2 linked regions of the Homo sapiens genome follow. The protein of the gene in region 1 interacts with the protein of each later gene in a pairwise test. Each region holds a gene or a part of one and is shown in the gene's direction. Other genes may lie near its edges.

Region 1 (6,150 bases):
GACAGAGCGAGACTCCGTCTAAAAAAAAGAAAGAACGAACGAACGAAAGAAAGAAAGAAACCAGAAGAAAGCCTAGGGAAAACTCTTCTGGACATTGGTCTAGCCAAAAACTCATGACTATGCCCTCTAAAGCACAGGCAACAAAACAGAAAATAGGCAAATAAGATTTATCTAAACTAAAAAGTTTCTGCACTGTAAGAATTAAACAAAAAGGAAAGAAACATGAAAGATGGCTTGCCAGTTAAGACAGGTTTATTTTAGAGAAAACAAACCTAAGAGTGGCATTTGGCTGAGTTAGGTTGGAGGCACACTTTTTACAGACTAAGAGTTTTTAAGGATTCAGGGTGGGAGAGTTTTTTAGAGGCTTGGACTGCTTCTGTGTCTCTTTGTTGTGCTTATCTGGGAGGGAGAGTTGTGTGTCTATTCCCTTGCAGGCATAGCCCGAGTCTGCTTTTAACTTCCCTATCTTAGTGCACATGAAGGGAAAGGAAAGTGCTTATTAAGGCCCACTCTTTTACTGGGGCCCATTGTACGAGGGTGAAGTTTGGCAGTTACCCAAGAGACTTTCCCCCTGCTTCCCTCTGTGCCAGAGCTATCTTATCTGTGTTTTACTGTCTGCTGTTTCTGGCTGCTTGTAGTTAGAAGAGAAGTGATTTCCTTGAAATGCATGAGGCTAGAAAGGGAGCTGCAACTTCAAGTGGCAGTGTTTGTCCAAGATGATGGTGCTCCTGGTCTGTCATGCACAGCAAAAGACATAATCAATGGAGTGAACAGGCAACCTGCAGAATGGGAGAAAATATCTGCAAACTATCCATCCAACAGGGGATTAATATCCAGAATTTAAGAGGAACTCTACCAACAAAAACATTGCAAATAATTCCATTAAAAAGGGGAAAAGGACATGAACAGACATTTTTCAAAAGATGACATACAAATGGCCAATAAGCATTTGAAATAATGCTTATCATCACTAATCATTAAACAAATGCAAATTAAAACCACCATGAGAGATCATCTTATACCAGTAAGAATGGCTGCTATCAAAAAGACAGAAATAACAAATGTTGATGAAGATGGAGCTGAAAGGGAACACATAAACAGTTGTTGAGAATGTAAATTAGTACAACCGCTATGGAAAACAGTATGGAGATTTCTCAAAGAACTAAAACTAGAACTACCATTTGATCCAGCAATCCCATGACTGAGTGTCTACCTGAAGGAAAAGAAATCATTATACCAAAAATATACCTGCACACATATGTTTATTGCACCACTATTTATAGTAGCAAACATATGGAATCAACCTAAATGTCCATCAGTGGATGACTGGATAAAGAAAATGTGCTATATATAAACAATGGAATACTCTTCAGCCATAAAACATAATGAAACCATGTCTTTTGCAGAAACATGGATGGAACCGGAGGCCATTATCTTAAGTGAAACAACTCAGACATAGAAAGACAAATACTGCATGTTCTCAGTTACAGTGGGGCCAAATGATGCGTACACATGGAGGTAGAGTGTGGAATGACAGACAATGGAGAGTCTGAAGGGCAGGGGTGTAGGAGGGGGAAGGATGATGAGAAATTACTTGATGGGTAGAATGCACGTTATTTCAGTGATGGATACTCTAAATGTCCTGACTCGACCATTATGCAATATATCCATGTAACAAAATTATACATTTACACGAATAAAATATTTTAAAAATATCTGAATTGGAAAGGAAGAAGTTACATTGTTTCTATTTGCAGATGACATGATCTTATATGTAGAAAACCCTAAAGACTTCACTGAGAAACTGTGAGAACTAATAAACAAATTCAGTAAGGTTGCAGAGTATAAAATCAACATGCAAAACCCAGTAGGTTTTCTATACACTAATAGCAAACCATCTGAAAAAGAAATCAAGAAAACTATTTCATTTACAATAGTTACAATAAAATAAAATACTTAGGAACAAGTTTAACCAAGGAAGTGAGGATATCTACACTGAAAACTGTAAAACACAGATGAAAGAAATTGATGAAAACACAAATAAATGGAATGATATCCTGTGTTTATTCCAATATTGTCCAAATATTATTAAAGCAATCTACAGATCTCACACAATCCCTATAAATATACCAATGACATTCTTCACAGAAATATTTTTAAAAAGTTCTAAAATTTGTATAGAACCACAAAAAACCAAAGTGATCTTGGACACTAAGAATATAGCTAGAAGCACCACACTCCCTGACTTCAAAATAAACCACAACACTGCAGTAACCAAAATACCATCATTCTGACATAAAAACAGACACACAGACCAATGGAATGGAATAGAGAGACCAGAAATAAAGTCACTCATTTATAACCAATTGATTTTCAACAAAGATGCCAAGAATGGGGGAAGGACAGTTTCTTCAATAAATTATGTTAGGAAAACTGGGTATCCACATGCAGAAGAATGAAATTAGTCCCTTATTTCTTACAGTATGCAAAAATCAGTTCAAATGGGTTAATGGCTTGAATGTAAGATCAGAGGCTATGAAATTTTTGGAAGAAAGCATGGGGGAAAGATTCATGACATTGGTCTCGGCAATGACTTTTTGAATATGACCTCAAAAGCACAGGCGACGAAAGAAAAATTGGATGACTGAGATTACATCAAACTAAAAAGCTTCCACACAGCAAAGGAAACCACAAAAAGAGTCAAGAGATAACCTACAGAATGGGAGAAAATATTTATAAAGTATATATCTCATAAGGGGTTAACATCCAAAATACAAAAGGAGCTCAAACAGCTCACAAGCAAGAAAACAAAAACCTGATTAAAAATGGGCAAAAGACCTGACTAGACATTTCTCAAAAGAAGACATACAAATGGCTAACAGGTTTGTGAAAAAGTACTCAACATTACTAATCATTAGGGAAATACAAATCGAAACCACATTGAGATATCACCTTATTCCTGTTAGAATGGTTATCATCAAAAAGACAAAAGATGACAAGTATTGGCAAGGATGTGAAAAAAACTCCCTCGTACACTGTTGGTGGGAATATAAATTAGTTCAGCCATTATGGAAAACAATATAAGGGTTCCTCAAAAAATTAAAACTGGAATTACCGTATTATCCAGCAATCCACTTCTGGGTACCTTATATATCTACAGGAAATGAACTTAGTATGTTGAAGAAATAACTGCATGTCCAGATTTATTGCAGCACTATTCACAATTGCCAAGATATGCACACAGTGCAAGTGTCCACCAATGAGTAAGGGGATAAAGAAAATGCAGTATATACTCAGTGCAATACTATTTGGCCGTAAAAAGACGGAAGTTCTGTCATTTGTGACAACATGGATACATCTCAAGGAAATTATGCTAAGTGAAGTAAATCAGTCATAGAAAGACAGATAGCACATGATCTCACTCACATGATCGCACTCAAAAAAGTTGATATCATAGAAGTAGAGCAGAGAATGAAGATAATCAGAGGCTAGGGGTGGCTAGGGAGTCAGGGGCTTGAGGAGATACTGGTCAAAAGACATATAATTGTAGCTAGACAGGAAGAATCAGTTCAAGAGGTCTACTGTATAGCATAGTGACTATAGTTAATGATGATATATTGTACATACTGTATTCTTGAAAAATTCTAAGAATGGATATTAAGCGTTCTCACCACAAAAAAATGATAGGTATGAGAGGTAATGCATTTATTAGCTAGATTTAATCCTTCCACAATGTATATATACTTCAAAATATTATGTTGTATGTGGTAAATACAATATTATACGTCAATCTGAAAAATAACTAATTGTTTTTAATTTCACTGAGCTTGAGTTCTTTCTATATTAAGCACATCATGCAAGACACAGTAGTGGGGGTAGATAGATTCTTAAAAGTATTATACAGGTGTTACACAGTGTTAGGGAGCCTGGGTGAAGTACAGACAGCCTCTCCTGGGACTGTTTGTTACAGCTGTATGTAAATCTACAATTATCTCAAATTTCTTTTTTAAAAAGTGAAAACACACACCTGCATTATGTTAACAGACAGTTAGAGGCATTTAAAAAAAACAATGAGTTATGGAATAAAAATGGGACTATGTCTTCCGGAATCTAATAGATTAACTGGAGAGACATGACACAAAATATAGGAGAGCAAAGTATCAATTTAAGAAACTGACCCATTAGTAACACCAAGTATAAAAATTTAAGGATATGGAATATGACCCAAAATTTGAAACATTCAGGGAAACCCATTTCAATAGTGTAGAGGTCACCAAGGCCACATGCAGGTATTGCTATCCCTTTGCTTATTGCTTAATAATGACCCACAGACTAGGAATGCCACACTGAGCAGATGGGTTTTCCTCGCTATTGGTCACTAGAGGGAATGCATAACTGGAAGTGTGACTGACCAAATCCCATTTTGGTAGAGGGTACCTGAAGCGAGAGTAAGAAATGCAATTCCAAATGCAGGGAATCACATGAACAGCCCTCTGTGGAGGAAGAGGAAGAGAACGTGGTCTAGAAGATGCTACCGAGGTGTGAATCATGAGAGAAGGCAGACATGATAGATCTTATTACATCCGGACAAGAAAATTTTGTTTTCAACAAGTTTAAACCATTAAATGGGCAAACATTATTGTGTAATCTGATAATCACTTAGTTATTAAGTAAACAAAAACAAGGAAAATGTAGTACCAACAAGACAGCTGGGCAGTATATAAGAGGCTGTGGCCCAAGGACACTTCCAAACTTGAGAACCTCATTCTTCTAGAAATCCACCCAGAACCTCCACCCTCTGACACCATGGTCAGCTCCTGTTGTGGCTCTGTCAGCTCTGAGCAGAGCTGTGGCCTGGAGAACTGCTGCCGCCCCAGCTGCTGCCAGACCACCTGCTGCAGGACCACCTGCTGCCGCCCCAGCTGCTGCAAGCCCCAGTGCTGCCAGTCTGTGTGCTACCAGCCCACCTGCTGCCACCCTAGCTGCTGCATCTCCAGCTGCTGCCGCCCCTATTGCTGTGAATCCAGCTGCTGCCGCCCCTGCTGCTGCCAGACCACCTGCTGCAGGACCACCTGCTGCAGGACCACCTGCTGCTGCCCCAGCTGCTGTGTGTCCAGCTGCTGCAGACCCCAGTGCTGCCAGTCTGTGTGCTGCCAGCCCACTTGCTGCCGTCCCAGCTGCTGCATCTCCAGCTGCTGCCACCCCTCTTGCTGTGAATCCAGCTGCTGCCGCCCCTGCTGCTGCGTGCGTCCAGTCTGTGGCCGAGTCTCCTGCCACACCACTTGCTATCGCCCAACCTGTGTCATCTCCACCTGCCCCCGCCCCTTGTGCTGTGCCTCCTCTTGCTGCTAATGTCTCCTTGTGATATTTGTCATACTATGAATGTCTTCATTAGTCATTTAAAATGCACTGTAGCCAGCCAGTCACTGGAAAAATGAACACTTCCCTGCCAGTTTGTCTCATGTGGCATTCAGAGTGGACATTCAGCTCTTCTAGGAAATGACAGACAATCACATTCATTAAAATATGTTATGCCAGGCCCCAATGCAGTTATTTTTAGATGAGCAGTGTCTTCATTCGAAGGGGACACTAACTGTGATGATCTCATATAATATTGTTTTCATGTATTAATAAACAGCCACTTCCCTAATATTGAAATCTTCTGATTTGTTAGTGATCTCATTGTGCGTGTGTGTGTGTGTGTGTGTGTGTCTTTACCTGTCAGTTCACATCAAGGGCCATCTCTCTTCAAATGCAGGAGAGCATGTTTAAGAGCCTGGGCTCTTGATTCATGTTCCCTGCATTGGAATCACGACTCCCCTAGGTATTTGTTGCGTGGCATGGGGCAAGTTTTTTAACCTCCTCAGGCCTCAGTTTTCTTTCTCTGTGAATAGAGATAATGCATTACATTCTTTAAATGTTAAGAGACATAACCCATGTAATATACTCACCACAGGGCCTGGTACATAATGCAGTATAGGCTCTTAATGGATACAGTTTCTGGCCGAGCGTGGTGGCTCACATTTGCAATCCCAGCACTTTGGGAGGCTGAGTGGGTGGAACACTTGAGGCCAGGAATTCGAGACCAGTGTGGGCAACATAGTGAAATCCCTTCTCTACTGAAAGTACAAAAATTAGTTGGGCGTGTTG
Region 2 (7,031 bases), on another chromosome or scaffold:
CCCCTGCCTTGCACCTCAGTTGCTCTGTCCAGCCCCACCCCCTTTACCTTTCCTCTGCCACCCTTGTCACCATCCTGCCCTGGGACCTTTGCACTTGCTGTGTTCTCCACCCTGAACACAAACATCATCACTCCCTCAGGGTCTCCTCTTGTCCTCTTGCTGAGGCACACGCTGCGGGAAGAGCATGTCAGGCAGAAAGAATAGCCCACACAAAAGCCCTGTCTTGACCAGGTGTGGTTGGTGGTGCCTGCCTGTGATCCAAGCCCTTTGGGAGGCTGAGGTGAGAGGATCACTTGAGCCAGGATTCCCAGGCTGCAGCGAGCTATGATTGCAACACTGCACTCCAGCCTGAGCAACAGAGCAAGACCCTGTCTCAAAAAAAAAAAAAAAAAAAGCCCTATTTTAGGTCCTTTGGGGTGTGACGGAATGCCATACTCTGGTGGCTTAGAAACAGCATTTATTGGCCGGGCACAGTGGCACATGCCTGTAATCCCAGCACTTTGGGAGGCCAAGGTGGGTGGATCATCTGAGGACAGGAGTTTGAGACCAGCCTGACTAATATGGTGAAACCTCATCTCTACTAAATACAAAAAATTAGCTGAACATGGTAGCGCATGCCTGTAATCCCAGCTATGCAGGAGGCTGAGGCAGGAGAATCGCTTGAACCCGGAAGGTGAAGGTTGCAGTGAGCCAACATTGTGCCACTGCACTCCAGCCTGGGCACCAAGAGCGAAACTCTTATCTCAAAAACAAAACAAAACAAACAAACAAAAAAACAAAAAAAGAAAGAAAGAAAGAAACAGCATTTATTTCCACACAGTTCTAGGGGCTGGAAGTCCAAGGTCAAGGTGCCGGCAGGTTTGGTGTCTGGTGAGGGCTGCTTCCTAGTTCATAGACCGGGCCCTCTTGTTGTGTCTTCATTTGGAGGAAGGGGCAAGGGAGCCTTCTGGGTCCTCTTTTATAAGGGCAGGAATCCAACGCCTGAGGGCTCCAGCCTCATGTCATCATCACCTCCCAGAGGCCCCACCTCCTAGCACCACCACAAAGGGTTAGGATCTCACACAGGAAGTGGGGAGGACAAGCTTCAGACGTAGCCTGTCCAGCAGCAGCAGGAGTGTACCCGGAGGAGCCAAAGGCCGAGCACTCTCTGCTGTATGCACACAGCCTACTAGTTGGTTCAGGGAATGCCTGTGTGTGAGGGGCTGAGCCCACACATAACATGAGGCCAAGCTTGCTGAGAGACCTGCCATGTCCCTCGGGAGAAGGGGAGGCTGGAGCCCTGTTTAGAGAGAGAAAACCAGGCAGAGCCTCAGAGCAGGTAGCCACTTACCTGCAGCCACACAGCCTGGAAAGGACCTCCCAGCAGTGTGAGCCCCCTCCTCTGGGGCTAGCCCCAGCACAGTGGATCCACAGGCAGCTGCCTCCTTCCCTCTCTCAGCACCAGGAGGTCATTTGTCCATCTGTCTTCCCATTCTGTTAGAACTAAAGCATCAGAAGTCAGTGGTGAGTTTCTCGCCAGCGTGCAGGTCCAGTGTACACCAGGCAATTGGTATAAATCCTTCAGCATCACAGCCCCACTAGAAGTAACTATATGTATGGCTTCTGTTATGGCTTTCTAAAAAACAGTGACTTCCTGGGCTCATATAAAAACAGATCCCTGCTTTCCACTGAAAATGTGCAAAGCAGACAGGGTAACCTGCAATAGCTTGAGATCACCATCTCTAACGACCCTGGGCCCACGAGCCAGCATGAACCTCTGAGCCTGGGAGACCCTGGGCAGCTCCTTCACTGATGGAGCCCTGTAGAAGGGGAGCATAGTGAGTTGAATAGTGTCCCCATAATGTGAAATCTGGGATCACTGTTGGCTGATTCTGTCTGGTGAGGGCTCTCTTCCTGGTTTACAGATGGCCGCCTTCTCCCTGTGTCCTCACACGCAGAGAGGACAGAGAGAGCAGAGAGTAAGTGAGCCCCCTGGTGTCTCCTCTTATAAGGACGCTAATCCTATTAAGGAGGATGCCCTCATGACCTAATCATCCTCCAAAGGCCCCACATCAAACGCTGTCACACTGGGAATTAAAGTTTCAACTGATTTTTCCCCAGAAAAGAAAACTGTCTTTCCAGTTATCTTAGCTCCAGCTTACAAAAAAAATCACAGATTAGGTGGCTGAAGCAATAAACACTTATTTCTTCACAGTGCTAGAGGCTGGGAGTCTGAGATCAGAGTGCCAGCATGGTCAGACCACACTGAGGACTCACTTCCTGGCTTGCAGACGGCTGCCTTCTTGCCATGTGTTCACCTGACAGACAGCGAGCTCTGGTGTCGCTTCCTCTTCTTATCAAAACATTAGTCCCAGCCAAGCGCGGTGGCTCACGCCTGTAATCCCAGCACTTTGGGAGGCCAAGGTGGGTGGGTCACCTGAGGTCAGGAGTTTGAGACCAGCCTGGCCAATATGGTGAAACCCCCTCTCTACTAAAAATACAAAAATTAGCCGGGCATGGTGGCGTGCACCTGTAGTCCCAACTACTCAGGAGGCTGAGGCAGAAGAATTGCTTGAACCCGGGAGGCGGAGGTTGCAGTGAGCCAAGACTGTGCTCCAGCCTGGGCAACAGAGCAAGACTCCATGTCAAAAAAAAAATAAAACAGTCCCATTGTGGGGGCCCCACCCTCATGACCCCCTCTAAAGCTAATCACCTCCCAAAGGCTCCATCTCCACAAAGCATCACCTTGGGAGTTAGGGCTTCCATGTATAAATTTTGAGGGGGCACAATTCAGTTCACAGCACCAGATTACAGGGCCATATTTTAAGAGCTGACAGATTCATGCTTTTTTTTTCTTTTTCAGGGATCTTTTAAATTTGTTTTTAGTTCCATTAAGTCAGTGATTCCCAACTGGGGGCAATTTTGTCCCCAGGGGAGGGGACACCTGGCAGTGTCTGGAGACTTTTTAAAGAAAATTCAGACAGGGTCTCACACTGTCACCCAGGCTAGAGTGCAGTAGTGTGATCACTACTCACTGCAGCTTCAACCTTCTGAGCTCAGCTGATCCTCTTGCCTCAGCCTCCTGAGTAGCTGGGACCACGGGTGCACAACATCATGCCTGGCTAATTTTTTTTTTCATTTGTAGAAATGAGATCTTGCTGTGTTGCCCAGGCAGCAGACAGTTTGCTGGTCTCAAACTCCTGGGCTCAAGCAACCACCTGCCTTGGCCTCCCAAAGTGCTGGGATTGCAGGCATGAGCCACCACGTCCGGCCTGGAGACATTTTTCATTGTTACAACTCAGGGGTTGAGGGGTAGTGTCCCTGGCAGCCAGTGTGGAGAGACCAGGGACGCTGCTCAACATCTCACAACACACAGGATGGGTCCCACCACACCAAATTATTGGACCCAAAATGTCATTGGCACAGAGGTCCAGGGACCCCATGCTAAGTTCTTACCAGTTCAGCTGTTAGCCATTTTTCCAGCTCAGGACAAGTGGCAACATTTAATTTTTTTTTCTATCTTTTTCTTTTCAGACCCAGAGAAAAGATGTGAGATCAAGACAGCAGCCCAGGGATCGAGGATGGAGGGACTCTTGAGCGTCGCCCTCCAGGGCGCAGAGTTGGAAGGAAACTGGAAACACGAGGGCCAGGTTGAGGACCTGCAGGAAAACCAGGAAAGCTGTCCAGAGCCAGAGGCCGTGGCCTGCAAGGGAGACCCTGCTGGGGACAGCATGCAGGAACGCGATGAATTCAGCCGAATCCCAAGAACCATATCGAGCCCTGCTGCTACCCAAGCCAGTGTCCCCGACGACAGCAGTTCCCGGAGGTGCAGCGCGCCTGGGGAGAGCCCGAAGGAGAGGCATCCTGACAGCCGCCAGCGGGAGAGAGGTGGAGGCCCCAAGAAGCCGTGGAAATGCGGGGACTGCGGGAAGGCCTTCAGCTACTGTTCAGCGTTCATCTTACACCAGAGAATCCACACCGGGGAGAAGCCATTTGCGTGCCCCGAGTGCGGCAAGGCCTTCAGCCAGAGCGTGCACCTGACCCTGCACCAGCGCACGCACACGGGCGAGAAGCCCTACGCCTGCCACGAGTGCGGCAAGGCCTTCAGCCAGGGCTCGTACCTGGCGTCCCACTGGCGCACGCACACGGGCGAGAAGCCGCACCGCTGCGCCGACTGCGGCAAGGCCTTCACGCGCGTCACGCACCTGACCCAGCACCGGCGCGTGCACACGGGCGAGCGGCCCTACGCGTGCGCCCAGTGCGCCAAGGCGTTCCGCAACCGCTCGTCCCTGATAGAGCACCAGCGCATCCACACCGGTGAGAAGCCCTACGAGTGCTCCGCGTGCGCCAAGGCCTTCCGCTTCTCCTCAGCGCTCATCCGCCACCAGCGCATCCACACGGAGGAGAAGCCCTACCGCTGCGGCCAGTGCGCCAAGGCCTTCGCGCAGATCGCGCACCTGACCCAGCACCGGCGCGTGCACACGGGCGAGAAGCCCTACACGTGCCAGGACTGCGGCGCGCTCTTCAGCCAGAGCGCCTCTCTGGCCGAGCACCGGCGCATCCACACAGGCGAGAAGCCCTACGCGTGCGGCCAGTGCGCCAAGGCCTTCACCCAGGTGTCGCACCTGACGCAGCACCAGCGCACGCACACCGGAGAGCGGCCTTACCCCTGCCACGACTGCGGCAAGCGCTTCAGCAACCGCTCCCACCTCCTCCAGCACCGCCTCGTGCACACCGGTGAGCGGCCCTACAGGTGCCTGCAATGCGGGGCCGCCTTCAGCCACGTGTCCTCGCTTATAGAGCACCAGAAGATCCACACCGGAGAGCGGCCCTACAAGTGCGGCGAGTGCGGCAAAGCTTTCAGCCAGGGCTCCTCGCTCGCCCTGCACCAGCGCACGCACACGGGCGAGCGGCCCTACACCTGCCCCGAGTGCGGCAAGGCCTTCAGCAACCGCTCCTACCTGATCCAGCACCACATCGTGCACACCGGGGAGAAGCCCTACGAGTGCAGCGGCTGCGGGAAGGCCTTCAGCTTCTCCTCCGCGCTCATCCGACACCAGAGGACGCATGCAGACAGTTCGGGACGCCTTTGCCCAGCTCCCACGCCTGACTCAACACCTGGGCTCTCACAGGGAGGAGAAACCTGTCAACAGGGGTGCCCTGGCAGAAACCCGCGTGGACCAGCAGAAGATTAAGAGCTGAGGGCCTCCTTTCCAACCTCACAATGCTATGGGGGAGATACTGTGTTATCCCCGACGCTTCCTGTGAGGAAACCGAGGCTCAGAGAAGCTTGTTAACTTGCCTGAGGGCACACAGTGGGGAAGACACAGGGCTAAGACTGTACCTCACATCTGCCAGACTCCCCTGCGGTCTTCCTGGTGCAAAATTATAAATGGGGCACGGGCAAGTAGACCTGCAGAAACACCTATGGCTGGCCTTTAATTTCTTTCTTTTTTTCTTTGAGACAGTGTCTCTCTCTGTCACCCAGGCTAGAGTGCAGTGGAGCGATCTCGGCTCACTGAAACTTCTGCCTCCCGGGTACAAGTGATTCTCCTGCCTCAACCTCCCGAGTAGTTAAAATTACAGGAGTCTGGCTAATTTTTTTTTTTTTTTTTTTCTGAGACGGAGTCTTGCTCTGTCGCCCAGGCTGGAGTGCAGTGATGCAATCTCGGCTCACTGCAACCTCCGCCTCCCGGGTTCAAGTGATTCCCCTACCTCAGCCTCCCGAGTAGCTGGGACTACAGGCGCCCGGCCACCACACCCGGACTAGTTTTTTTGTATTTTAGTAGAGGCGGGGTTTCACCATGTTGGCTAGGATGGTCTCGATCTCCTGACTTCGTTATCCACCCGCCTCGGCCTCCCAAAGTGCTGGGATTACAGGCATGAGCCACCGCGCCCAGCCTAATTTTTGTATTTTTAGTAGAGGCAGGGTTTCACCATGTTGGCCAGGCTGTCTCGAACTCCTAACATCAGGCGATCTGCCTGCCTTGGCATCCCAAAGTGCTGGGACTACAGGCCTGAGCTACGGTGCCTGGCCAGCTGGCCTTTTCATTGTTGATTTTATTGAGTAAGCCCTTGCTCAGTAAATTTAATTGAATTAAAGTGAATAAAAGGTTTGGTTTCTTTGGCCAAGTTGGCATATTTACTAAAGGAGCAGAGTCTGAAGAAGAAATCTGGATTCACTAAGATAGAAATAGTGCTTAGAGAAAATGAGCAGGAGAAATCTAGAGCTGAAAGTTATTCTAGAAGAAGGGAGTGCTTCTCCTCTACAAAAGATTTTTAGAGTGGGCCTAGTCTTTTTTTCAGTATGAGGAAACACCTACCCATCTCCACCATTTTTCCCCCTAACTCAAAGACCTGACTTTAATGCTTGTATCAGTCAGCTCTTGCTGTGTAACAAACCATCCAGCCCTCATTTATCCATTTACTATTTCTCATGCATCTGGAGGTCAGCTGCTGGTTCTGTTGGTCTGGACCAGGCTTGGTCTGGACCTGGACCAGGAGGGCTCAGCTGGGCCAATTTGATCTTCTTCTCCTGACTCACATCTCACCTGGGTGTGTTCTCAGGGAGGTGGCAGGAGTCTGAGAGGGAGTGGACACACAGGCATGCTTTCAAGTCTCTGATATTGTCACATTTGCATCTAGTCCCACAGGCCAAAGCAAGCCTCCTAGCCAAGCCTAGGATCAGCACAGGAAGAGCCTTCCTAAGCATGTGGTCCCAGGGAAGGGTGAAAAGTAGGAGTTATGAACGTAATCCACCTACTACAATGTTGAATTAAAGTTATAATCTCATAACTTCACATGACTATAATCATTGGAAAATTATTTTATGGGGGAATACACTCATGTAGTCCACAATTTATAAAGTTAAAAAAAAAAACTGTTCTTACTCCTGTGTCTCCCAGCTACCAAGTCCCCCTCACTAGAAGCAAATGCTTACTATATGTAAGCATATATATGAATATTTATATGCATAGAATATTCTGGAAAGATATATAGTACACCTTTCTTCACAAATGGTAGCATATGATATGCAGAATTTTCTTCTTTTT

What was found. The genes of interacting proteins can lie anywhere in the genome.
Region 2: the proteins of KRTAP4-5 (region 1) and ZNF835 interact in binary tests that used the Homo sapiens proteins (3 or more experiments, as listed by UniProt).

Annotation. Positions count from the first base shown.
Region 1 is NC_000017.11:41,148,424-41,154,573, reverse strand, and holds KRTAP4-5 (keratin-associated protein 4-5), read left to right. Parts: upstream 1-4,748; 5' UTR 4,749-4,806; coding exon 4,807-5,352; 3' UTR 5,353-5,650; downstream 5,651-6,150. UniProt on the Homo sapiens protein: In the hair cortex, hair keratin intermediate filaments are embedded in an interfilamentous matrix, consisting of hair keratin-associated proteins (KRTAP), which are essential for the formation of a rigid and resistant hair shaft through their extensive disulfide bond cross-linking with abundant cysteine residues of hair keratins.
Region 2 is NC_000019.10:56,661,728-56,668,758, reverse strand, and holds the end of ZNF835 (zinc finger protein 835), read left to right. Parts: intron 1-3,513; 5' UTR 3,514-3,560; coding exon 3,561-5,174; 3' UTR 5,175-6,779; downstream 6,780-7,031. UniProt on the Homo sapiens protein: May be involved in transcriptional regulation.